Homo sapiens: one gene and its partners. The protein of the gene in region 1 purifies or fractionates together with the protein of each later gene. This does not show direct contact. Each region holds a gene or a part of one and is shown in the gene's direction. Other genes may lie near its edges. The genes, in order: ZDHHC5, RBM25, NCAPD2, RANBP2, HSD17B4, CSE1L and ANP32A.

The links.
Region 2: the proteins of ZDHHC5 (region 1) and RBM25 purify together in Homo sapiens (co-immunoprecipitation; one large-scale study listed by IntAct). This does not show direct contact.
Region 3: the proteins of ZDHHC5 (region 1) and NCAPD2 purify together in Homo sapiens (co-immunoprecipitation; one large-scale study listed by IntAct). This does not show direct contact.
Region 4: the proteins of ZDHHC5 (region 1) and RANBP2 purify together in Homo sapiens (co-immunoprecipitation; one large-scale study listed by IntAct). This does not show direct contact.
Region 5: the proteins of ZDHHC5 (region 1) and HSD17B4 purify together in Homo sapiens (co-immunoprecipitation; one large-scale study listed by IntAct). This does not show direct contact.
Region 6: the proteins of ZDHHC5 (region 1) and CSE1L purify together in Homo sapiens (co-immunoprecipitation; one large-scale study listed by IntAct). This does not show direct contact.
Region 7: the proteins of ZDHHC5 (region 1) and ANP32A purify together in Homo sapiens (co-immunoprecipitation; one large-scale study listed by IntAct). This does not show direct contact.

Annotation. Positions count from the first base shown.
Region 1 is NC_000011.10:57,692,114-57,695,613, forward strand, and holds part of ZDHHC5 (palmitoyltransferase ZDHHC5), read left to right. Parts: intron 1-497; coding exon 498-589; intron 590-1,669; coding exon 1,670-1,802; intron 1,803-3,500. UniProt on the Homo sapiens protein: Palmitoyltransferase that catalyzes the addition of palmitate onto various protein substrates such as CTNND2, CD36, GSDMD, NLRP3, NOD1, NOD2, STAT3 and S1PR1 thus plays a role in various biological processes including cell adhesion, inflammation, fatty acid uptake, bacterial sensing or cardiac functions.
Region 2 is NC_000014.9:73,120,967-73,124,399, forward strand, and holds the end of RBM25 (RNA-binding protein 25), read left to right. Parts: 3' UTR 1-2,933; downstream 2,934-3,433. UniProt on the Homo sapiens protein: RNA-binding protein that acts as a regulator of alternative pre-mRNA splicing. Involved in apoptotic cell death through the regulation of the apoptotic factor BCL2L1 isoform expression.
Region 3 is NC_000012.12:6,514,602-6,518,101, forward strand, and holds part of NCAPD2 (condensin complex subunit 1), read left to right. Parts: intron 1-171; coding exon 172-319; intron 320-2,226; coding exon 2,227-2,424; intron 2,425-2,763; coding exon 2,764-2,898; intron 2,899-2,994; coding exon 2,995-3,082; intron 3,083-3,177; coding exon 3,178-3,358; intron 3,359-3,500. UniProt on the Homo sapiens protein: Regulatory subunit of the condensin complex, a complex required for conversion of interphase chromatin into mitotic-like condense chromosomes.
Region 4 is NC_000002.12:108,767,982-108,771,481, forward strand, and holds part of RANBP2 (E3 SUMO-protein ligase RanBP2), read left to right. Parts: coding exon 1-407; intron 408-1,278; coding exon of another isoform or gene 1,279-1,356; intron 1,357-3,500. UniProt on the Homo sapiens protein: E3 SUMO-protein ligase which facilitates SUMO1 and SUMO2 conjugation by UBE2I. Involved in transport factor (Ran-GTP, karyopherin)-mediated protein import via the F-G repeat-containing domain which acts as a docking site for substrates.
Region 5 is NC_000005.10:119,528,997-119,532,496, forward strand, and holds part of HSD17B4 (peroxisomal multifunctional enzyme type 2), read left to right. Parts: intron 1-897; coding exon 898-984; intron 985-2,269; coding exon 2,270-2,408; intron 2,409-3,500. UniProt on the Homo sapiens protein: Bifunctional enzyme acting on the peroxisomal fatty acid beta-oxidation pathway.
Region 6 is NC_000020.11:49,049,312-49,052,811, forward strand, and holds part of CSE1L (exportin-2), read left to right. Parts: intron 1-3,500. UniProt on the Homo sapiens protein: Export receptor for importin-alpha. Mediates importin-alpha re-export from the nucleus to the cytoplasm after import substrates (cargos) have been released into the nucleoplasm.
Region 7 is NC_000015.10:68,814,396-68,817,895, reverse strand, and holds part of ANP32A (acidic leucine-rich nuclear phosphoprotein 32 family member A), read left to right. Parts: intron 1-3,500. UniProt on the Homo sapiens protein: Multifunctional protein that is involved in the regulation of many processes including tumor suppression, apoptosis, cell cycle progression or transcription. Promotes apoptosis by favouring the activation of caspase-9/CASP9 and allowing apoptosome formation.

The DNA of each region.
Region 1 (3,500 bases):
TCAAGCAATTCTCCTGCCTCAGCTACCCAAGTAGCTGGGATTGCAGGTGCCTGACACCATGCCCGGCTAGTTTTTATATATTTTTATAGTAGAGATGGGGTTTTGCCATGTTGGCCAGTTTGGTCTCAAATTCCGGACCTCAGGTGATCCACCTGCCTCAGCCTCCCAAAGTGCTGGGATTACAGGTGTGAGCTGCCATGCCCAGCCCTTAATTGCTTATTCTTTATCTTAGTTTTCAATATTTAGAAAGCTATCCCATTTTACATGAGGAAACTGAGGTTTTGGGTCAGCAACCATGAGGTAGACCTAGGATTTGAACTAAGGACCCTGACTGTAGATTCCCTGCTCTTAACCATAACATATATAAATTTCTTGTGTTTTACTCATTTGCATAGCCCTCAGATAGTGAGTGCACAATAACTTGTAATAGATTTGTATTTTGGCCTTTGGAAGTCAAGGTCTCATCTTCTAACCTGGTATTTTTTTTCTCCCTCTAGGTTACGGGTAAATTCCGGGGAGGTGTGAACCCCTTCACCAATGGCTGCTGTAACAATGTCAGCCGTGTTCTCTGCAGTTCTCCAGCACCCAGGTACACCTATCCCTCTGGTCTAGTGTTTACCATTGGTCAGAACTTTTATCTTCTTTGGGCTTGTTCTGGTAAAGGAGGGGTCTGGTGAGAGCCTTTAGGAAGGGTTCTCTATCTTAGAATGTTAAGTACCCACTCTATCTTAGAATGGTAAGTAGTCTATCTTAGAATGGTAAGTACCTACATGCCCATCCTTTAGTGCAGTGGTCCCTAACCTTTTTGGCAGCAGGGACCGGTTTCATGGGAGACACTTTTTCCACAGATGGGGGCTGGGGTGGGGTGGTTTCAGGATGAAACTGTTCCACCTCAGATCATGAGGCATTAGATTCTCATGGCTGGGTGTGGCGGCTCACACCCAGCACTTTGGGAGGCCGAGGTGGGCGAATCACTTGAGGTCAGAAGTTCAAGTCCAGCCTGGCCAATATGGTGAAACCCCTTCTCTACTCAAAATACAAAAATTAGCTGGGCAAGGTGGCAGGCACCTGTAATCCCAGCTACTTGGGAGGCTGAGGCAGGATAATTGCCTGAACCCAGGAGGCAGAGGTTGCAGTGAGCTCAGAGCACACATACAACCTAGATTGCTTGCATGTGTAGTTTACAACAGGGTTCTAGGGTTTGCGCTCCTAAGAGAATCTAATGCCTCCGCTGATCTGACAGGAGATGGAGCTCAGGTGATAATGCTCACTGGCCCACTGCTTACCTCCTGCTATGTGGCCCAGTTCCTAACAGGCCATGAACCGGTACTGGTCTGCGGCCCAGGGGTTGGGGACCCCTGCTTTAGTGGACACTGTGAATTCCATTGATATTCTTCAGGTATTAAGGTAAATCTTTGAGAATTGAGGGTGAATAAGATACACTCTAAAGTGCTTTCCTTGAGCTAGGTATCTGCTCACAAAGGCCTAGTCCTGCTGCAGTCCTTCACAGAATCAATTCTGTTTATTGCTAAGTAAGTGATGGCCAAAACTGCAATTACTTTTTTACCAACCTAATAAAAATGGTTTACAGAAACAGTAGATACTTTAAAATATAAATGAATGAAAGCTCTCTCGCTGTGTCTCTCTCTCTCTCTCTCTCGACACTTAGGTATTTGGGGAGACCAAAGAAAGAGAAGACAATTGTAATCAGACCTCCCTTCCTTCGACCAGAAGTTTCAGATGGGCAGATAACTGTGAAGATCATGGATAATGGCATCCAGGGAGAGCTGAGGAGAACAAAGGTGAGGAATTTAGAGAAGTCAAGCTAGATAACATGGAAGTCTCACCCAAGGCAAAGAGACGGAAGCTTGCTTTAGTTTCCTTTGTGTTTTTTTTTTTTTTTTTGAGACAGAGTCTTGCTCTGTTGCCCAGGCTGGAGTGCAGTGGTGCTCAGTGCAAACTCTGCCTCCCAGGTTCAAGCAATTCTCCTGCCTCAGCCTCCCGAGTAGCTGGGATTACAGGTGTCCGTCACCTTGCCTGGCTAATTTTTGTATTTTTAGTAGAGATGGGGTTTTGCCATGTTGGCCAGGCTGGTCTCGAACTTCTGACCTCAGGTGATCTGCCCACCTCGGCCTCCCAAAGTGCTAGGATTACAAGCATGAGCCACCACGCCTGGCCCATATTTCTTACAGTGTTTATCACTTACTAATTTGGGTTAAAATTACTTAAATACAAATCTTGTTTTCTACATTAGATTTTTTTTTTTGAGAGGGAGTCTTGCTCTGTTACCTAGGCTGGACTCCAGTGGTATGATCTCAGCTCACTGCAACCTCTGCCTCCCAGGTTCAAGCGATTCTCGTGCCTCAGCCACCTGGGTAGCTGGGACTACAGGCATGCGCCACCACGCCTGGCTAATTTTTTTATTTTCAGTAGAGGCAGGGTTTTCCTATGTTGGCTAGGCTGGTCTCAAACTCCTGACCTGAAGTGATCCAACCCCCTCAGCCTCCCAAAATGCTAGGATTATAGGTGTGAGCCACTGCACCCGGCCCTACATTAGACTTTAAGTTCATTAACAATAGAAAATGAATTCATTCATTTCCATGTCTTCATAGGACTTAACAGCTTACAGCTAGATGGTAGGAGCTAAACAAGTAGTTGTTGGTTTAAATGGGCAAATAAGTGACAGAATTAAAACCTTTTTTAAACCCTTTCTTCTGCCAGGTACAGTAACTCATGCCTATAATCCCAGCACTTAGCGAGGCTGAGGTGGGAAGATCGCTTGAGTTCAGGAGCTCAAGACCAGCCTGGACAACATAGCGAGACTCCATCTCTAAAACAGACTAAAATAAAAAATAGAAAAATTTTCTGGCTGGGCGTAGTGGCTTATGCCTGTAATCCCAACACTTTGGGAGGCTGAGGTGGGTGGATCACCTGAGGTTGGGAGCTCGAGACCAGCCTGACCAACATGGAGACACCCTGTCTCTATTAAAAATACAAAATTAGCTGGGCATGGTGGCGCATGCCTGTAGTCCTAGCTACTTGGGAGGCTGAGGTAGGAGAATTGCTTGAACCCGGGAGGCGGAGGTTGCAGTGAGCCGAGATCATGCCATTGCACTCCGCCTGGGCAACAAGACCGAAACTCCATCTCAAAAAAAAATTAGCCAGGTGTGGTGGCACATGCCTGTAATCCTAGCTGCTTGGGAGGCTGAGGCATGAGAATCGCTTGAACCTGCGAGCCAGAGGTTGCAATGAGCCGTGATCACGCCACTGCACTCCAGCCTGGGTGACTGAGCAAGACTCCATTTCAAAAAAAAAAACCCAACTTTTCTTCATCTAATGCTATACCCAAACTGATTCTTGTGCCTTGTCTTCCAGTATAGTTGAGAAATATATGATAGGCAGTGGCTCATGTCTATAATCCCAACATTTAGGGTGGCCAAGGTGGGGTGATATTGCTTGAGGCCAGGGGTTCAAGACCAGCTTGGGCAACATGGCGAGAC
Region 2 (3,433 bases), on another chromosome or scaffold:
TCATTAGTGTTTAAAAATGTACTGATGATGTGCTTAGAGAAATTCCTGGGGCTTTCTTCGTTGTAGATCAGAATTTCACCAGGGAGTAAAATTACCTGAAAACGTAAGAAGTTTTAAACAGCTTTTCACACAAATTAGATGCAACTGTTCCCATGTCTGAGTACTTATTTAAAAGAAAGGTAAAGATTGGCCTGTTAGAAAAAGCATAATGTGAGCTTTGGATTACTGGATTTTTTTTTTTTTTAAACACACCTGGAGAGGACATTTGAAAACACTGTTCTTACCCTCGAACCCTGATGTGGTTCCATTATGTAAATATTTCAAATATTAAAAATGTATATATTTGATCCTGGGGACTCATATTCTTTCAGAATCATGTAAATAAATGGCATCATGTTGTAATTGTGTGGTGCATACTAGAAAAGTTAAAAATATGGGCTGAACTTTTTATGGACTTGATTTTTATGACTATTGGTATCTAAAGGTCAAGGAAGCCATTTACATTATTTTGGATGAATCTACTATACATCTATGGAAATGTCTCTTTTATTTTAAATTCTGGTTTCTCAACGGAAAATTTCAGAAAAGATGCCCCTTGCCATTTTCGTTAATTTTTCAGTCTTTTCTTAGACACACCCCCAGCCTAAGACCTTGTTCGAGGAGTTTATTGTGTCTGTCTTTTCTTAACATACTGCACTGTTCTTAAGCATCATATTGTGTTGTTTTTATTTAGCCACTATTAACATGAAGGTTTATTCAGGTAGATTTGATTTCCTTTGCTTCGTTTCTTCTCCTGCTCTGTCAACTGTACTTATCTTAAAGGGCCACTCTAAAAACAAGGGAGATGTCGTAATCTGAAACCTTTGGGGAGATGTACTCTGTACTGCATAACATCTCCAGTGAGGTTTGTGACAGGACCTCAACTAAATATATGAATTTGTGCAAGTTCATATATTAAAGTTTCTGCAGCAGAGTGAAAATTGTTACAGTAAATGTGGTAGAAACTGTTAATCGCTTAATGCCAGTTTAAATCATGTTTTGTAACCAAGCTTCAGTAAAAGGCTTTAGATTGTCAGAGTTGGTTGATTTTTAGAATTGTATATATAAAGAATTAGACATTAAACAGGCATATTCTAGTGTCTGAAAATACACATAAGAAATTTCTATTAAGTTGCTTGAACTTTGTGGGTTAATTTTACCATAATCTCATAAATTAATTTTAGTTTGAAAACCTTATACAGTATGAATTCATTTTGCCATTTCAAGTTGTTATATAAAGAGCATGAAAGTCTTTTTTTGTTGTTTTTTTGGGGTTTTTTTTTTTTTGAGAGGAAGTTGTGCTTTTGTCGCCCAGGATGGAGTGCAATGGCGCGAGCTCAGCTCACTTCAACTTCCGCCTCCCGGGTTCTGGAGATATTCTGCTTCAGTTTTCTGAGTAGCTGGGATTACAGGTGCCCACCACGACACCTGGCTAATTTTTTGTATTTTTAGTAGAGACAGGATTTCACCTTGTTGGCCAGGCTGGTCTCAAACTCCTGACCTCAGGTGATCCACCCGCCTCAGCCTCCCAAAGTGCTGGTATTACAGGCGTGAGCCACCTTGCCTGGCCAAAGCGTGAACATCTTAAGAACCAGTCTTGATCTGGCAAAAAAGTAGTAGAATACTACTTTTCTTTATTTGTCCCTAAAAATAAAGTATGTACATCTGTTCACAAGGAAGAAAGGTAAGTTTGAAGTTGTTTTTCTTAAACTTTAATGTGACCCCAAATCATCTGAGGAGTGCTTGTAGAAATAGAGACACTGAAGTAGCAGCGCTGGGGTGGCGCCGCAGGCTTTGCATTTCTGGACAGCTCCCAGCTAATGTCATTGCCAACTGATCCAAGACTACATTTTGATTAGCACTTTAAGGTGTCTATTCAGTATTATTTTATCCTAACAGACTACATAAATGCAGCTGAATTTTCCTTTAAGTAGATTTTAAAGAGAAAAACATTTTTTGAGGCAAATACACGTAACTCATGAACGTAATGTAATCTTGCAAAATTATGTCTGAGAAAGCCCTAATATTCTAGGCTTTTTTTCCATCCAGCCCTGAAAATTTTTTCTGTAGATAACTTTATGTTGTAACTTATTCTGAATCTTATTATGGCATTTCCCTGTAAACTATGTAAGTGTAAGCTAATGATTATTTTGTGAAGCGTGCTGTTTCAGGTATTAATCTGCCATGAATACTAGATATAGTAGAAAAACTGAGAAAACATTTAGCTTGAGAGCCAATTTGAACTAGACACTATCTTTTTTTCTCCTTTTTAATGGAATAAATTTAATGCAAATAAGTGTAAGCAGGTATACAATGTTTAGATGAGGCTTATTTTCCCAACTCTTTTTAACAGGTTTTATGATATCCCCAATTTATACCCAAAAGACTGCTGAGAGGTTTTATGTCAAATTGATTACAAACTTCTCTGGGTTGTATTTCAGTCTTCTGTTAAGTATGAAATTGAGAAATAGTTTTGCTCAACAAAAGATGATGAGGGATTGATTTGTGAATGTCACTGGAGATAAAAGGGTATGAGAAGGAATCCCAAGCAGGCAAAGAAACAGTCTAGCTGTCAAGAAGAAAACAGGGAGATACATACCAAACCCAGGAGCTACTAATATAACAATCATACTATAGAGCGAAGTGAACTTACACTTTTTGATAAACTGATAGATTTTTTGTAATGTGATTATGGTAAAATACTGAAATATTTATGTTAATTTATTTGCATTTGAATGCTTACATTTTTAATTGACAGAATCTTTGCATTTCATTACTTGAGTCATGAAGGCGAAATTAAAGAATGGCAGTCTAAAATACCCAGGTAAAGAAGATAATTTCTAGAAACAAAAATAAAAATTCTTTTCAAGCCATGTTGTTTGAATTAAATGACACTCCTGAGTCTGTCTACTTTTTTTTTTTTTTTTGAGACAGCATCTTGAACCCAGGAGGTGGAGGTTGCAGAGAGCCGAGATTGCGCCACTGCACTCCAGCGTGAGCAACAAGAGCAAAACTCCATCTCAAAAAAATACATGTATTTCTGTTAGCTGATCATCTAATGGTGGCAAAAAAAATTACACGAGTTCAGGAACATCATTAGACATAAATACAAAATACTATGTGAATTATCAAATGTGATAAGCTGAGAGGAAATGGGAAATAGGAAGATTCTCAGTAGAAGTAGTAATATGTGGAAGGGGCTTTAGAGGTCACCTAGTCTGTTTTGCCCATTGTAATTATGTCAGTAGTCCCTGCAGGTGGTTTATCTAGAGGAGTATATATGGGGTTCTAATTCATGGTCTAGCATTGCACTATTAAATAACCACTAATGACAAGTAGTTTTACATGCATTCACGTGAAATCTTTCTGTTTGTTTGTTTGAGATAGGGTCTGC
Region 3 (3,500 bases), on another chromosome or scaffold:
TCGAAGTTTCTCATGCTTATTTTCCTTGGGGAGGGAATAAAGAAAGATTGGAAATACATTATCTGTGCAACAGTAGATTCCTTCAGATATTAGATACCTGTCTTACCTTCCCTTACTGGGAACTGAATAATTGATCTATGTTGCTATGGCTGTGTTTTCTTCCCTGTGTAGAGAGATTGGACAAAAGTGTCCCCAAGAGCTGAGTCGAGACCCTTCAGGGACAAAGGGCTTTGCAGCATTCCTGACAGAACTAGCAGAACGTGTCCCAGCTATCCTGATGTCCAGCATGTGCATTTTGCTAGATCACCTGGATGGAGAAGTAGGTGGTCCACTAGGGGTCACTGAGCTTTTTCTGGGGATTTTAAGTCCAGTGTTGAAAGGCTGTTTCTTAACAGAACAAGAAAGTAGCTTTGACAAGTTGTCTAGATTTATCATTGTGACATTTCCTTTCTGTAGAGAAGCAGGTCAAGTTTGTTGAATAAGGAGCTCTTTATTAATCTGTTAATCTTTCAATTCACATTGCTTTTATCCAGTTCTGGTAAGGGAGATGACATTTCTGCAGCTTAAGTCTAGTAAGAGCAACTCAGCTTTGATTTTTTTTTTTTCTTGGAGGTAGGATCTGGCTCTGTCACCCATGCTGGAGCATGATCATAGCTCATTGCAGCCTCGATCTCCTGGGCTCAAGCAATCCTCCCACCTCAGCCTCCCAAGTAGCTGGGACTTCAGGCACATACTACCATGCCTGGCTAATTTTTTTAGTTTTTGTAGAGGTGGGGTCTTGCCATATTGCCCAGGCTAGTCTCAAACTCCTGGTCTCAAGCAACCCTCCTGCCTCAGCCTCCCAAAGTGCTGGGATTGCAGGCGCTACCATGCTTAGCCTTCAGCTTTGATTCTGAGTCCCATCTGTTCCTCAGGATAAAGCGTCTTCCCACCAGCTGGCTTGCCTTGCTTCCTCAAACAATGAACTTTCTCAAATCAACCCATGTCATCTCTCTCAATTCTCTTTTATGCCTGAATGCTAACCTGGCTGATTCCCATACTGATGTTGGGCACTCCTAGGTGAATGTCAAGGACAAAGACAGTCCACTTGTTCATCTCATTTACTTTAACTTTTTGTGCAAGACCCTATTCTCTGGTTCTTAGCCTGGCAAAACCTTAACCCTGCTCTCCACTAGATTATGTATTGGACTTGCTGGCACTCTTAAGGCTGATTTCCATGTTTCTGTCTCATTTTCTGTCAGTAAAGCATCTGAAGGAGAGTGGGAGGGAAAGGAGGGGATATTTATTAGTAAGGATTAAAGACTTTGAGGCCAGGTGTGGTGGCTCACGCCTGTAATCCCAGCACTTTGGGAGGCTGAGGTGAGTGGATCACTTGAGGTCAAGAGTTTAAGACTAGCCTGGCCAACATGGTGAAATCCCATCTCTACTAAAAATACAAAAAAAAATTAGCTGGGTGTGGTGGCGCGCACCTGTAATCCTAGCTACTCGGGAGGCTGAAGTGGGAGGGTTGCTTGAACCTGGGAAATGGAGGTTACAGTGAGCCGAGATCGCACCACTGCACTCCAACCTGGGTGACAAAACGAGACTCTGTCTCAAAAAAAAAACCAAAAAAAACCACACAGACGGGCGCGGTGGCTCACGCCTATAATCTCAGCACTTTGGGAGGCCGAGGAGGGTGGATCACGAGGTCAGGAGTTTGAGACCAGCCTGGCCAATATGGTGAAATCCTGTCTCTACTAAAAATACAAAAATTAGCTGGGTGTGGTGGCGGGCACCTGTAATCCCAGCTGCTTGGGAGGCTGAGGCAGGAGAATCACTTGAACCCGGGAGTCAGAGGTTGCAGTGAGCCGAGATGGCGCCACAGCACTCCAGCCTGGGCAACAGAGCAAGACTCCGTCTCAAAAACAAACAAACAACCACAATAACAAAGGCTTTGAGACCTCAGCTGAAGGGTAGTTAATAAATGCTTTTCAAATGTGTGTTGGTGAGTGGATGTGATTTTTTTATTCAGCTACTACCATGCTTTCCTGTGTGAGCCCTATGAGGAAAAATTGGTTTTGGCCCTTGTTCTAGCATTCTCTGAGCAACAAGTCCTCTTTGGGATTCAGCTTTCTCCTGTGACCTTGGGAGTGAATACCTAGGCAGTTAATGGAAAAAGTTATGGCCAAGCACAAGCAAGCTTCGCCTTGACTAAAGGTTTGACCCCTCTATGCTTCTCTCTCTTAGAATTACATGATGCGTAATGCTGTGCTGGCAGCCATGGCGGAGATGGTGCTGCAGGTTCTCAGTGGCGATCAACTGGAAGCAGCAGCCCGAGACACCAGAGACCAGTTCTTGGATACTTTACAAGCCCATGGCCATGATGTCAACTCCTTTGTGCGGAGCCGTGTTTTGCAGCTCTTCACCCGAATTGTCCAGCAGAAGGTAACCAACTTCTATGTGGCAAAAACATATGGTACCTCTCCATATACCAGTGTAAAGAGGAATCCAGTGTTGAAGATAAATATCTGCCCCAAAGAGGTCTAGAATTCACATTTTTATTATCAGTAGTAAAAGTCTTCCTCTACCAAGGACGAGGATATCTGGCTCCCTTTAAGGACTGTAATGTGTCTTACCACTACAAGGAGTACTCCTAATCTATATTCTGTAGAAAGGGTTTTTAGAGTGAGTGGGTAGCTCAGTTTAGAGTATACTTAAAGATCATCTTGAACAAAATGGATGATGTGGGACTTGAGCAGATTCTTCTCTTCCTACCCTACACAGGCTCTCCCCCTGACACGTTTCCAGGCAGTGGTGGCTTTAGCTGTGGGACGTCTGGCAGACAAGTCAGTGCTAGTATGTAAAAATGCCATCCAGCTGCTGGCCAGTTTTCTAGCCAATAATCCTTTCTCCTGCAAGGTAAGTAGACTTGGTCCACCAAAAGAGAAGGAATTAAATGGAAACAGGGATGAAATTATGTCATTTACTGACCCTGCTATTCATTTTACCTGATAGCTTAGTGATGCTGACCTTGCCGGACCACTGCAGAAGGAGACCCAGAAATTACAAGAGATGAGGGCCCAGAGGCGAACTGCAGCAGCTTGTAAGTAGTTACTGCCTTGGAGTCCTAATGCCAGACAGGCTTCTCCTTGCAGTCAGAAACTCTAGTGAAAGAGACTAAGTGACACTCTCATTTAGCTGCAGTGCTGGACCCAGAGGAGGAGTGGGAAGCCATGCTGCCAGAGTTGAAGTCTACCCTGCAGCAGCTTCTACAGCTTCCCCAGGGAGAGGAGGAGATTCCTGAGCAAATTGCCAATACAGAGACAACTGAAGATGTGAAAGGACGCATCTATCAACTGCTTGCCAAAGCTAGTTACAAGTAGGCAAAAGAATGGGATATTCTTCGTGATCTGTTTATGTTTAGAGTTAACCTTTGAGAAACTTACATAATGTGTCTTTTAAATTAACTGCACACAGATATGCTGCCACCAGGTGATGGTAGATGTTTTCATGTAGTAATG
Region 4 (3,500 bases), on another chromosome or scaffold:
TGTTATTCAGGGTGATGATGTAGCAGATGCAACTTCAGAAGTTGAAGTGTCTAGCACATCTGAAACAACACCAAAAGCAGTGGTTTCTCCTCCAAAGTTTGTATTTGGTTCAGAGTCTGTTAAAAGCATTTTTAGTAGTGAAAAATCAAAACCATTTGCATTCGGCAACAGTTCAGCCACTGGGTCTTTGTTTGGATTTAGTTTTAATGCACCTTTGAAAAGTAACAATAGTGAAACTAGTTCAGTAGCCCAGAGTGGATCTGAAAGCAAAGTGGAACCTAAAAAATGTGAACTGTCAAAGAACTCTGATATCGAACAGTCTTCAGATAGCAAAGTCAAAAATCTCTTTGCTTCCTTTCCAACGGAAGAATCTTCAATCAACTACACATTTAAAACACCAGAAAAGGGTAAGTACTTTGTTGTTAAAGTTAAGCACAATTTTTCTTTCTTTTAATGTTTAGCTTGATGCAGACTCTTTGTAGGATACTAATGTTGGGATATAAATGATGCTTTGTGAACACCCCCAAAATATTTGAGCAATTTTTTTTCTCCCTTAATAAGTTCACGGTGAGGTTTCAAAGAGCAAGAGAACTTAGTTTAAGACATTTCAGTAACTGGAAGATACTTTTATCATGCTAGGGCAGAGCAAAAGAACTCGGTACGGTATACGGACTCATGCTTGAATCATGCACATTAACGTGAGTCTTTTTTTAAAGTGTTCATTTTCATTTGTTCAGTTTCTTTTGTCACTCAGAAAACATGATATTGAGGCTGGGCACGGTGGCTCACTCCTAGAATGCCAGCACTTTGGGAGGTTGAGGTGGGCAGATCACTTGAGCTCAAGAGTTCGAGACCAGCCTGGCCAGCATGGTGAAACCCTGTTTCTACTGAAAATACAAAAATGAGCCGGGCGTCGTGGTGCGTGCCTATAATTAGCAGCTACTTAGGAGGCTGAGGCAGGAGGATCACTTGAGCACAGGAGATGGAGGTAGCAGTGAGCTGAAATCATGCCACTGCACTCCAGCCTGACTGAGTGACTGAGACTTTGTCTCCAAAAAAAAAAAAACAACGTGATATTGAGATGTTCTCATTTTATATGTTGTATGTCAGTCTTGCTCATGTATTAAATGAGCAAAGAATGAAACTACAGGGATAAATGAATATGTAAGACAATCAGATTGGTGGTATAAATTGAGGGATTCTGGCTTTTTATGTTTTAAAAGCATATTCATTTTGTTTCCTAAAATGTTAAAAAACGAAATATTCTTTATTTTCTAGGATTTAATTTTAGCCTTTTTAAATCTAATCCCATGGCCTTTTGGACTAGCACCCCTTCCTCACAGCCTGAGAGCAAAGGTATAGAACTAGCATTCTCAGTATGAGATAACAGCAGTTTTTAGCAGCTGGGTAGCCCTTAGCAAAGTATTAATAACTGTGGCTGTATGAAATGAAGTACTTACCACTACAACATGCATGTTAAAGAATGCCAGTTTAAGCAAAGTACCTTTTGACTGGTGGCATGACACCCTTGTTGGTTTGTTTTTTAAAATGTACTGGGATGCTGATTTGTAATGTACTTCATTGCTCTGCTATTTCAGGTCTGCTCAATGAAGACCTATGTTTTATCTAATGTTTATGTTTAGCCACTAACGTCTGCCAGTATTCAAATGTAGTGGCAACGGCATGTATACAATATGGAAGAGTGTCCCTGTAGGGCTGTTCTTTTGTGCATGGTTTAGAAAAATGTTGTATTTGAAAATGGACCCCGTTTTTAACAGCCAGCATTCTACAGCTTGCATATTATATATGTTGCACCGATCAATTTTAGAAGTGTGGCTACTAGAGTGGAACAAGAAGTGGGATCTGTTGAAGGCCTTCAAGAACAGGTTAGGGAAGTGAAATCTCACCCTTAGTGACCAGTAACACATCTTAGCCATGCCAAACAAGTACAATGATAAAGTAGCAATCTCTGATTTTTTTTTTTAAGTATACCAGTTTTATTACTAGCTAAGGTAGCTCTTAATCTTTTATTTTTAAAGATACGGTCTTTGAGAAATGTGAAAAGTGTTAACTTAAAAGTGGATGTATACTTGCGTACAGTTTCTGTGAGCTCTAGGTTAGGAATCCCTGACCTAAGAATGAATGTGCCTATATACTACTGTAGAACATAGAGCCTTATTTTGTTTTGAATCTGATAATGTCATTGTCCCAAGGGACCTTAGAAATGAAGACTTTAGACATGAGTAAACTGAGGCCAAGAGAGGCTATCTGATTTACCCAAGGTGTCTTTACTGAGTAATAGCAGAAGTGGAACAAGAATCTGTATCTTACGGTGTACTGTTATTTCTCCTAGCTAGAAAATGATACTAAGTTTTTGTTTATAATGAAGGAGAGGGACAAATTTAACATTGTAAAAGGAAGGGCACTGGTTCTGCAGAGCAGTGTCATCCAGTAGAAATAAAATATAACCTGTGTATGTAATTTAAAATTGTCATTTGGTGCAATGGCTTGTGCCTATAATCCCAGTTACTTGGGAGGCTGAGGCAGAGGGATCACTTGAGCCCACAAGTTCCAGGCTTTAGTGAACTGTGATCACATCACTGCACTCCAGCTCTGGGTGACAAAGCAAGACTGCATCTCAAATAAATAAATAAATAAATAAATTTTCTAGTAGCCATATTAAAAAGAATAAAAAGAAACAGTTAAAAAGGGAAACAGATGAAAGTAACTTTATTGATAGATTTGATTTAACTTATGTCCAAAATATCATTTTAACTTCTAATTAATATAAAAATTAATGATATTTTACATTATTGTTTTTCACCAAGTCTTCAAAATCCAGTGTGTGTGTTTACACTTACTGTTAGCACGTCTTGATTTGGACTAGCCACCTTGTGAGGTTTTAATAGAATGTGGCTAGGCTACCATATTGGACACCATAGCTCTCAGAATGTTTCCCTATCACTAGTTGGTATACATGGCATGCTTCATGACTGGCTTGCTTTATTAAACTCCTTTAGCCAGAAGTTCAGAACAGGTTGCATATAGAAGTTTTTTCTCTTTCTAATTTTTTGCCCTTTGCATTGATGGTGGCTGGGGATGGGTTGTTTTTAGCCATATGAATGGTCTTAGATTTTATAGTGTTAGCTACCTATAGAGTCACAGTTGTTATTTAATTTTACTTAGTATCATGCTTGAACATAGGCAAACTAGATGCAACTCTAGTCACCTTCCATTCTTGGCAATTGTTAACTTTCCTTACAGAAACTAATCACAGTTGGCTTTGGATTAGTTTCATATGTATAGTAATACTTGCCTATGTTTTAAGATTTTTTTCAATTGCTGCAAATGCATGGATATTTTGGTAAACTATTGTATGCTAAGTATAGTTAGGCAACACTTTAAAATTTTTAACCTTTATAAATTCTAGAAATTTATAGTAATTCTTTTCAATGACTATTAAGTAAACACAAATTTTTTTTTGTTTTCTTTGGTTTTAA
Region 5 (3,500 bases), on another chromosome or scaffold:
CAATAAAGTAATTTACTGAAGTGCATTTTGTTCATTAATTATCTCTTTCCATGCTTTTCAATGTATGTAATTTGAAGTAAAGTGAACAAATTACTTGAAAGATCTTTTTTCCTCCAAAATATGATGAGATGTAGTCAAGAGAATGATCTTCTTGATTGTTAAAAATCAAAGTTTTAATAAACGCTATGTTAAACTTTAGAAACTTATCCTATACATTTGTAGCAATAACAATTTTTATGAAAGAATAGCCATTGGAATAATTTGAAATGAAGGACTGGGAATTAGAATTTGAATTCCTTTAATGACTATTTTGATAAAAGCCTATTTAGACATTTAGTTCATGCTGTGTACACTTCCTCTTGAAATAAGACCTGGAATTACTACTTAAAAAACACTATTATGATTTGTTCCTAGCCAATTTTATTCTATATTAGCAGAACAAATGTACTTTGAGTACCATTACCTCATGTGGCTATTGTGCTATGCCTTTTACTATTTATAAGGATTCAGCATGGACTGAATTCTGTTTATAAGAGTGCATCCCCTGATCCCCACTTCCCCCCCAAAAAATGCCCAAAATACCAAGGCCCAGTCTCTATCAGTGTATTTACATTAGAATTTTGGGGGATGGGACCTCATAGGGTTTCTTTGTTTGTTTGTTTTAAAGGGCTCCAGCTGATTATAAAGCCAGGTTTAGTAACAGTTGTATTAAATCAGAAAGCCTTTATGTTTGTTCATCTTGACATTTACTTTAGCAGCCTTTTATTTTATCTGGATTATTATATTCTTTTTCATATGAGGCAAAAATAATAAATTTTAAACTTTGTACTGTTTCACAGTGAAATTACACTTCCATTGTAATCAGAATAAATCTTTTTTTTTTCTTCTCCTCCTAAGGTCCAAGAAACTGGAGACATTGTCATTTCAAATGCATATGTGGATCTTGCACCAACATCTGGTACTTCAGCTAAGACACCCTCTGAGGTAGGTTATAAAAATTAGTATCCAAGCCACTTCCTCATTTAGGAATTTCAGTTAAGGTGACTTTAAGAGTGGTTAGGCTACGTTAGAAAATTAACAACCATGAAACTATTCTTAATTCTTGAAGTGAAAAACATTAATTCAAAACAGCTTGGAATAGAAGGAATACTCTGGCAATTTATGAACTTTAAAAAACTCGTTTTGCAGGATACTAGGATATCTTTCAAGAGAACATAATTTTCTAGTTTTAGAATAAATAAATCAGTTGTTTAATCAGAATCTTAAGCAAACAGCGTTTTGGAGAAAAATAGATTAAAAAGTTGAATATCCTGTACCTTTTTCTTGATTTAAAGGTTTATATAAAGTTTTGTATGCAAATATATAAACCAGCAGCGTGTATAATTTATTAAAACATTGTATTATTTATTAGCATGCTGAGACTTTTGATAAAAATGTTTATATTCTATCTCTGAAATATTAACTTTGTAATGTTGAGGTTTCGATACCCATGATCTTTAATTGTCTGTCATAAACCATATAACTGACTGAAAATTAAAATCCCTTAAGAATAGTCTAAGAAAAAAAAAAACTTAGAGCGGGCTCGGTGCCTCACGCCTGTAATCCCAGCCCTTTGGGAGGCTGAAGTGGTTAGGTCACTTGAGGTCAGGAGTTCAAGACCAGCCTGGCCAACATGGTGAGACTCCATCTCTACTAAAAATACAAAAATTAGCCAGCCTTGGTGGCAGGCTCCTGTAATCCCAGCTACTCAAGAAGCTGAAGCAGGAGAATCACGGGAACCCGGGAGGTGGAGGTTGCAGTGAGCCAAGATTGCACTACTGCATTCTAGCCTGGGCGACAAGTCTGTCTCAAAAAAAAAAAAAAAAAACAAAAAACAAAAAAAACCCAAAACTTAAGTTTTAGAGCTGTAAAGAAATTCAGACTTCATGTAATTTAGTATTATTTTATAAATAAAAAAAATGAGACCATAGAAGTTGATTAATTTGATCAGGATCTTTCTAAAGTTAGCTAAAACATAGGTTGTCCAGTTCCTATTTTTCTTTTAAAATATTATTTCTGAATTCTAATAAAAGTAAAATCCTGTTATTAAGAGGACTGAGGTTCTGAGTGATGTATACAAATAAGAAAGTATGAAAGACACATTGTATGAAGAAAACTGACTTATGTACAGAGTTTTAAAAAATCTTTTTTTTGCACATGTTTTATAATCACTTTTCTCCATGAGTTATTTTTACAGAACTTTTAAAGTTTATTTTGTTGTCGTTGTTAGGGCGGGAAGCTTCAGAGTACCTTTGTATTTGAGGAAATAGGACGCCGCCTAAAGGATATTGGGCCTGAGGTGGTGAAGAAAGTAAATGCTGTATTTGAGTGGCATATAACCAAAGGCGGAAATATTGGGGCTAAGTGGAGTAAGTTATAGCCCTGATTTTATAATATTCTAAGGTAATTCTTAGTAAATAAAGTATCTTTTTAACAATTAAAGACCTTTGAAGGTAGGTAAATCTTACCTTTTTAGGTAAGTTTTTTTTCTTTTCCCGTGGGAATGAATAGGTTTGGGAATGTCCAAAGGGGGGTGTGTGTGTGTGTGTGTGTGTGTGTGTTTGTGTGTGTGTGTAAGAGATGTAGGGAATCAATTGAAATGAAAATAACCTGTTTTAAGATTTCATTGTAATCCTTGAAAGTAGTTTAAACAGTCATCTTGGCTATATGCATCTTTATCTAATCTTCAGCTTCTTAAACATAAGGCAAATTCATCAAGTCAAAATGAAGTATTTTTAAGTCATGATATTTGACAGTTACAAAATTATTTTATTCATACCAAAACAATAATTTGGATTATCTTAATTATCAATATAAAATCACTATTTTCTAGATATATACAGATTATGGTCAAAGGTGTTTGTTTATCTAATCTAGGGAAATTATCTATTAGAGTGCCATGCACCCAATATAAAACATCTTGCCGCAGAAAGAAAGCAGTCATATTTCTTTTCACTGATGTGGAGGTCCAAAGAGACCCTGGTACCATTTTGTGAAGAAAGAGAAATTAGAGGATAAAAAGAATAAAGAAAAAATATTCTGTCAGATCTTTTGCATCTGCTGTGTAACTCACATCCTTAATCATGGCACACACTTTAATTATGGAATATTCTAACCTCACCTTTATTTTCCTAGAGATTCTTCAATTAGGTTGAAAAGATGAAAATGGATAGGAGGTAGAGCAGTAAGTCCCTGAATTCCCTTTCAGCAGAGTCTGTTGCTTGTCACAGTTATCTTACTGTATTATGGTCATTTATAATTGTATGTTTTCTCTCATTTGACTTTGGGCTTAATCCTGAGAAATGGCTGCAGTTTGTCTATTTCTAGCTTCTAGTATAGTCAATAACACATAATAACTAGCCTGATTCTGTATATGTTGGAATGAGTGCTAAAAGCCATGTAGAAAGCATAGTTTTAGAAAATAGTATGGCTGCCTTTTAAAAAAAAGGTTCTGAAATTGA
Region 6 (3,500 bases), on another chromosome or scaffold:
TAGCTAGGACTACAGGCGTGCACCACCACACTCAACTAATTTTTATTTTTTTTTTGTAGAGATGGCACCATGTTGCCCAGGTTGGTCTCAAACTCCTGGACTCAACCAATCTGCTTACCTTGGCCCCCCAAAGAGCTGGGATTACAGGCATGAGCCACCCTACTTGGCCAAAATGAATGTTTTGTTTCTAGTTTGAGTCATTTTTAGATCAGTAACACTTTTTGCATTTATATATTGCTAATATTTCAGAGTGTCAAAGTACCTTTACTTGTGGTTGCATAAGATAATTAGAGCTTGATCTTGTTGATAATTATGAATACCTGTAAAATGTTCTCTAAAAGTCCCTGATTTCTCTTATTTTCTCAAATTAAGGATAAGCTTAGAATTCGGTTTTATAGACTATATCTGCAAGGCGATATAAAAAGGATTTGTTGACAAATAGTTCCTTAAAGAATATTCCCAAAGAATAAACTTTGGAAGGCCAAGGTGGGCGGATCACTTGAGCTCAGGAGTTCCAGACCAGCCTGGGCAACACTGGAACCATGTCTACAGAAACAACACAAAAATTAGCCAGGTGTGGTGGTGTGTGCCTGTAGTCCCAGCTACTTGGGAGGTTGAAGTAGGAGGATGGCTTGAGCCCAGGAGGCAGAGGTTTCAGTGGGCCAGAATTACACCACTGCATTTCTCCAGCCTAGGTAACAGACCCAGACCCTGTCTCAAAAAAGAGTATTAAGATTCTGGGATCTATGTAGTATTTTAACTTTGAGGGATTATAACATGCATATTTATATAACCCCTCACTTTTTTTTAAACTTAAAAATAGTCCTACCCTAGCATCTCAACTTAATCATTTTAGGTTTCATTCTATTATGTGGTTTTATTTATTTATTTTTATTTTATTTTATTTTATTTTATTTTATTTTTGGAGACAGGGTTTCACTCAGTCACCCATACTGGACTGCAGTGGCAAGACCTCAGCTTATTGCAGCCTAGACCTCCCGGGCTCAAGCAATCCTCCTGCCTCAACTTCCCTAGTAGCTAGGACCACAGGAGGGTATCACCAAGCCCAGCTAATTTTTTTTTTTTTTTTTTTTTTTTTTTGAGATGGGAGTTTCACTTTTGTTGCCCAGGCTAGAGCTAGAGTGCAATGGTGCAGTCTTGGCTCATTGAAACCTCTGCCTCCCGGGTTCAAGCAATTCTCCTGTCTCAGCCTCCTGAGTAGCTGGGATTACAGGCGCATGCCACCACGCCCGGCTAATTTTTTTTTTTTTGTATTTTTAGTAGAGACGGGGTTTCATCACATTGGTCAGGCTGGTCTCGAACTCCTGACCTCAGATGATCCGCCTGCTTCGGCCTCCCAAAGTGCTGGGATTACAGACGTAAGCCACCGCGCCCGGCCTGAGCCCAGCTAATTTTTAAAATTTTTTGTAGAGACAGGATCTCACTATTGTTGCCAAGTCTGGTCTTGAACGGTCCTTGGGGTCAAGTGATCGTCCCATCTCCACCTCCCAAAGTGCTGGGATTACAGAAGTGAGCCACCTTGCTCAGCCTGTTGTGGTTTTAGAATCTAGAAGGTTGTGTCCACCTCTTTCTGTTTGACACAGTCAACCAACCAAAATAAAGATGAAGAATAATATTTTTGATGGAAACATCAAAGGTATCTAGCTTTTTAAAATAGTACAACAAATATATAACGGGTGCTCATCACTATTGTAAGGCTCTAGGGAGAGAGCAGTGAACAAAGCACAAAGTCCCTACTATCAGTGGAGTTTACAATCTAGTGAAGAGAGAAGCACAGTAAATGACAAAAGAAATTAATATGCCTGATAAAATGTACTTGGAAAATAGTAGAGTAAGGGCATGGAGAGTAACTGAGGTGAATGCTCTTTTAGATAGGATGGTGCAGCAAGGCATCTCTGAAAAAAAGATGACATTTGAAAAGAGTCCTTCCAGGCCGGGCACGGTGGCTCATGCCTGTAATCCCAGCACTTTGGGAGGCTGAGGCGGCAGATCACCTGAGGTCAAGAGTTTGAGATTAGCCTGGCCAACACGGTGAAACCGCATCTTTACTGTATATAAAACTCAGCCGGGCGTGGTGGCACGCACCTGTAGTCCCAGCTACTTGGGAGGTTGAGGCAGGAGAATTGCTTGAACCTGGGAGGCGGGGACTGCGGTGAGCTGAGATCACGCCACTGCACTCCAGCCTGGGTGACAGAGCAAAGACCCCTGTCTCCAAAAAAAACAAGAGTCCTGAATGAGAATGAAGTGGGCAGTGCAAACCTTGTAGCTTTCCGTGTGCAGAGCTCTGCAGGCAGAAGGAATGGTAAGTACAGAACCCTGAAACAAAAGTAAAATCACTGGCATGTTTGAACAGGTAATACAGGATAAATTTTATCTTTTTTCAGAGACAGAGTCTTACTCTGTTGCCCAGATTGGAATGCAATGGCATGATCATAGCTCACTGCAGCCTTAAAATTCTGAGCTTAACCAGTCCTTCTGCCTCAGCCTCCAGAGCAGCTGAGACTACAAGTGCTCGCCACCATGCCTGGCTAATTTTTATTTATTGTAGAGACAGGGTCTCACTATGTTGCCCACGCTGGTCTTGAAATCCTAGCCTCAAGTGATCCTTCCGCCTCGGCCTTCCAAAGCGCTGGGATTACAGGCATGAGCCATTCTGCCAGGCCAGAACAAATCTAAAAATTCACTTTCTTGAAGTACTTTTGAATAAACAAATTTAATTGTGGCAGTTAAGTTGGTCATTTGTTCATCTGACATTCATGCAACTGAGTTCCCACATTATGTTGGGGCTGCTAATGATTGATCTGAAGGGATAGTCTCCAGTCTTGACTGGAAACTCATGTTTTGCTGGGTGACTGACATGTTGTGACTTATCCTTTAGTTCATACAACAAATGCTTACTAAATATGTACTGTGTGCCAGGTAATGCTGAAGGTCCTGAGCATACAGACGAAAGTCCCTGCCCTCAGGAGCTTGCAGTCTAGTGTGTGTATGAGACGACAAAGAAGTTTATTTCAAATGAGGGTAATTGCTAACACAGTAAAACAAGGATGATGTAGATGGTAATCGTAGAAGGCCTTTTTGAAGAGTTGACAGTGGGCTGAGTGCTGAATGGTGTCCATTATCAAATTAGAGGATGAGCATTATTATGGTCAGGGAGAACTCTTGTGGCCAGTTTGTAGAACAGAAGGCTTTTGTGCCTGGAATGTAGCAAGAGCCAGGAGGAGGTAGGAGATGAGGTCAGTAGATACCAGATTGCTTAGACCCTGCTGTGGTAAGGGATTTGGTGGTGGTGGTGGTGGTGGTGGTTGTTTTGGAGATAGGGTCTCACTCCCATTGCCCAGTCTGTAGTGCAGTGGCCTGATCACAACTCACAGCAGTCTCAATTTGCTGGATCTACAGGTGTGTGCCACCACACCTGGCTAATTTTTTGTATATTTAGTAGAGACAGGGTCTTGCTGTGTTAGCCCAGGCTGGTCTGA
Region 7 (3,500 bases), on another chromosome or scaffold:
CTGTGGGGGGCGGGGGGAGCGGAGTCTTGCGCCATCACCCCGACGGCCTCCCGCGCGGAGGAGGCAGGGGGAGCCGGCTTTGGGGACCCCCAGTTGTGCTATGAGCCCCGATGGGGGTTTCCGCCCCGCGCCAACGGCCTGAGGCTGTGCTGGAGAGTCACGGCGGCCGCGGCGCCGGGAGGACGACGATCCTCTGTGCAAATGCCCCCCCCCACGCGCTCCCTGCCTCCCCCGCCTCCTCTCCGGGGTTTCGCCGTTCCTCCTGCAGGCGCTCAGACGTAGTTAAATGTGGCCTTAAGGACTAACCGATCGCTCTGGTGTTTGCTCTTTCGGCGGAAGTGATAGAGTAAGGGGAACATTAAACATGAGGTTCTTTTGGCGGGGGTGAGGGGTGTCGCGCACGCGACTCTAGTGGCCCTGACTGAAGCCAAGGACAGCAGCCTGTTCCCCGGGAGGGAAGAGTTGTCGATCCGTTGGGGAAACGCCCTCCCGGGCTGGGCTCTCCGGGAAGGTAGGTCGAGCTCCGTGTTTCAGGTGGATGTTGCAGCGCCCTGCAGGCTAGGGGAACCCTCCTCCTCGGTCTAAACCTGCTCCTTCCCCCTTTTATTTTTGCCTGGGAGAAGGCAGCTACAATAGTAATGAGATCCTAAAGCGAAAGAGAGGGATGAAGGTTTGCTTTTGAAAAAAGTAAACCGCCTTTCTCCGGATGTTGACTTAGGAGCCAGGCAATTCGTCGCGTCGGGTCCTCCGATGCTGGCATCTCTGAGAATTTTAAAAAGCCGATATAGGTGCTGGTTAAGCACCTCACGAGCTGAACTCTGGTATCTGTGCAGAAACTAACTTTCATGGCAGTGTCCAGCAGAGGCTGCCTTGGAAGCCAGCTTTTACTTTGACCTTTGGAATACATCGCATGATGTTTTCCAGGCTGACTTACTGCCTAATTGGGTTCAAGTAGCATGATATTAACTACAGTTTATGCAAGCCAACCAGGAACTCGCAGGCAGAAAATTGAGCCTGAGTTCCCCTGTGGTCATAGTCAGTTGAGTTCTGCTGCTGATAGTAGTTTCGAGTCTGAGGGGCTCCATGATGAAGATGGGCTTAGGAATTACACAGACCTGGGTTTGAATTCCTCCTGCCACAAGGAGGTAGGATACGTTTACCTGCCCTTGTGACCTTGGGCTGGTGAGCTTAACCTACCTTTTTGAAGCTTTGTTTCTTCACCTGTAAAACGGAATAATCCTATTTAATCAGTAAATGATGACAAAATTGGTTTGATATGGCCCTCAGTATATGCTGTCTATATGACAGTTTTAGTCTCGGAGACATATCAGGGTGCTTCCAGGCATTACTTTGAGCTCCTCCATGGTTTAGGATAATAACAATATTAGCTAGTGCTTACATAGCAACCACGCTGTGTCTGGCACATTTCTTAAGTGGATTACATGTATCAACTAATTTAGTCCCCACAACAGCACTATGAGGTAGGTATTATTATTATCATCGTCATTGTGCATATGGAAATTGAGGCATACAGGGGTTATCATGTGACCAGTGAGTGGCAGAACCAGGATTCAAACTCAGCCAGTCTGCATACTCAACCTCTACACTCTACTGCCTCCTTTGAAACACCCTTTTTTTCTTAAGATACTGTAAGGAAGAGCTTTTTCTTCTCCAGCTTTGGAGTGGTGCCACCGTAGAAAGAGAATGAGTTTTCTATTATTGAAGACGCTGAAATGAAGAGTGGATAGCATCCTGGTTGGAGATATTAGAGGGCCAGGAGGTTCAGGACCAGGGGCTGTGGATTATCATTTTATGAAGCCTTGCACTGAGTTTGCTTTAGCACATCACAGTGGGTTAGGTTGAAGTGGATCTGGCCTTCAAGGTGCTGGGGGACACATTTTGAGTAAGGAGAAGACAAGCAGGAGCTGCTCAGGCAGTCTGCATCTGCAGCCAAAAAAACTCAACATAACTGGCATGTCTTTAGTATCTGGGACATAGTATGCTCATAGCACCTCATGGATCATCTCACTTAATCATCCCAGCAACTCTTTAAGGGTAGGCCAAGCAGTGCAATGCCACCCCTGTTGTGAGGATGAATCATCTGATTTTTGGAGAGGTTGAGCAACTGGTAGGTGGCACAGCCGGGTTCTCGCACTGCAAAACCACAGGCCCCTTTGGTGGACAGAGATTCCGAGGATTGGATAGTCCATTGGGTCCATGGCCCATTACCAGAATCACGTGAGAGGCATGTAAAATGCAGATTCCTGGGCTCCACCCCAATCACAGGAGTACCACAGCAATCACCAAACTATAACTGAGCTCCCAATTTTTGTACAGTCATGAGCTAAGAATTATTTGTACATATAAACGTTGCAGTCAATTTGATGGTATGGAACACTCTTTGAATCCCAATGACTTGAAATGTTATTCTCCCAAAAAATAAGAAATCCACTTGTCTCGTTAACAGATCTCGTTACAAAAAAAAAATTGTACTCAATATATTCTGAACTTTATCAATAAAAGAATTGTGGAAATGTGTTAGATTTTTCTCTTGTTATAAAAGTCCCTATGTAGTGTTCTTAATTTTGGCTCTTGATAAAGTTTACTATCTGCCCCCTTTGCAGAAGAGGTTTGCTGAAAAGGTGGTTCAGTAGATTGGAGGGTGGGCCCCAGGGATCTAGTGTTTTGCTTTGTTTAAGCAAATGGCAAGCCATATATTTGGGTGGTACTCTCAGGGTCTTTTTAAGTCCTTTTATGTGTTCTGTGCCCTGTAAGTAATTGGTGCCTAGTGGAAATCAGCCTCAACCCAGGAACCTCCATAGGAAGAGAAATTATCCTTGTTACTGGTTTAGTATGAAGCACTTCTCGTCTAGAGTTCTGTATAGCCAGCTGAAATTCTTCGTTGTGTACTCAGAACATGTCAAAGCCTTCTGTGTATCTTGTAGTTGAATGGTCACTCTTAGGTTCTAGATGTCATCTCAGAGATAGAAAGAGCTTTGGGTTGCAACGGTTAGAGCTTTGAGGCTTGAACCAAAGGCGGGGCAGCTGTGCACCCAGTGGCTCACATCAGCCTTTCAGAGCCCAGATCTTTGAAAATGACAGATAATCCTGGAATCTCTAGTTTTTGGCCTGCTGCTTTTCTACCATGCGTGTTTCCTGGGGAATGAACCAGCAGCATAGTGGCTTTGAGTTTCAGAAGTTTTTCCCTCTAGCGTCTTGTGCCTGAGCTAATGAACGGAAGGAATGGTTATAAAATTGGCCAGGTCAAGGGGAGGAGGAGATAAATTCAAGGGGACAAATCCTAGTCCCCATAACAGCAGCCTGTGTTATGACAGCACACCACAGCCCCAATTCCCTCTTTCCTGCTGCTGCTGCACCACCAGCCTCTCAAGGTGGCTTACTCTAGACTTACACAGTTGGCCATCTTTCTTTTTTTTTTTCTTTCCCCATAGCAGTATGAGACTTGTTTCCTTTTTTATTTATTTATTTTATAATTTTTG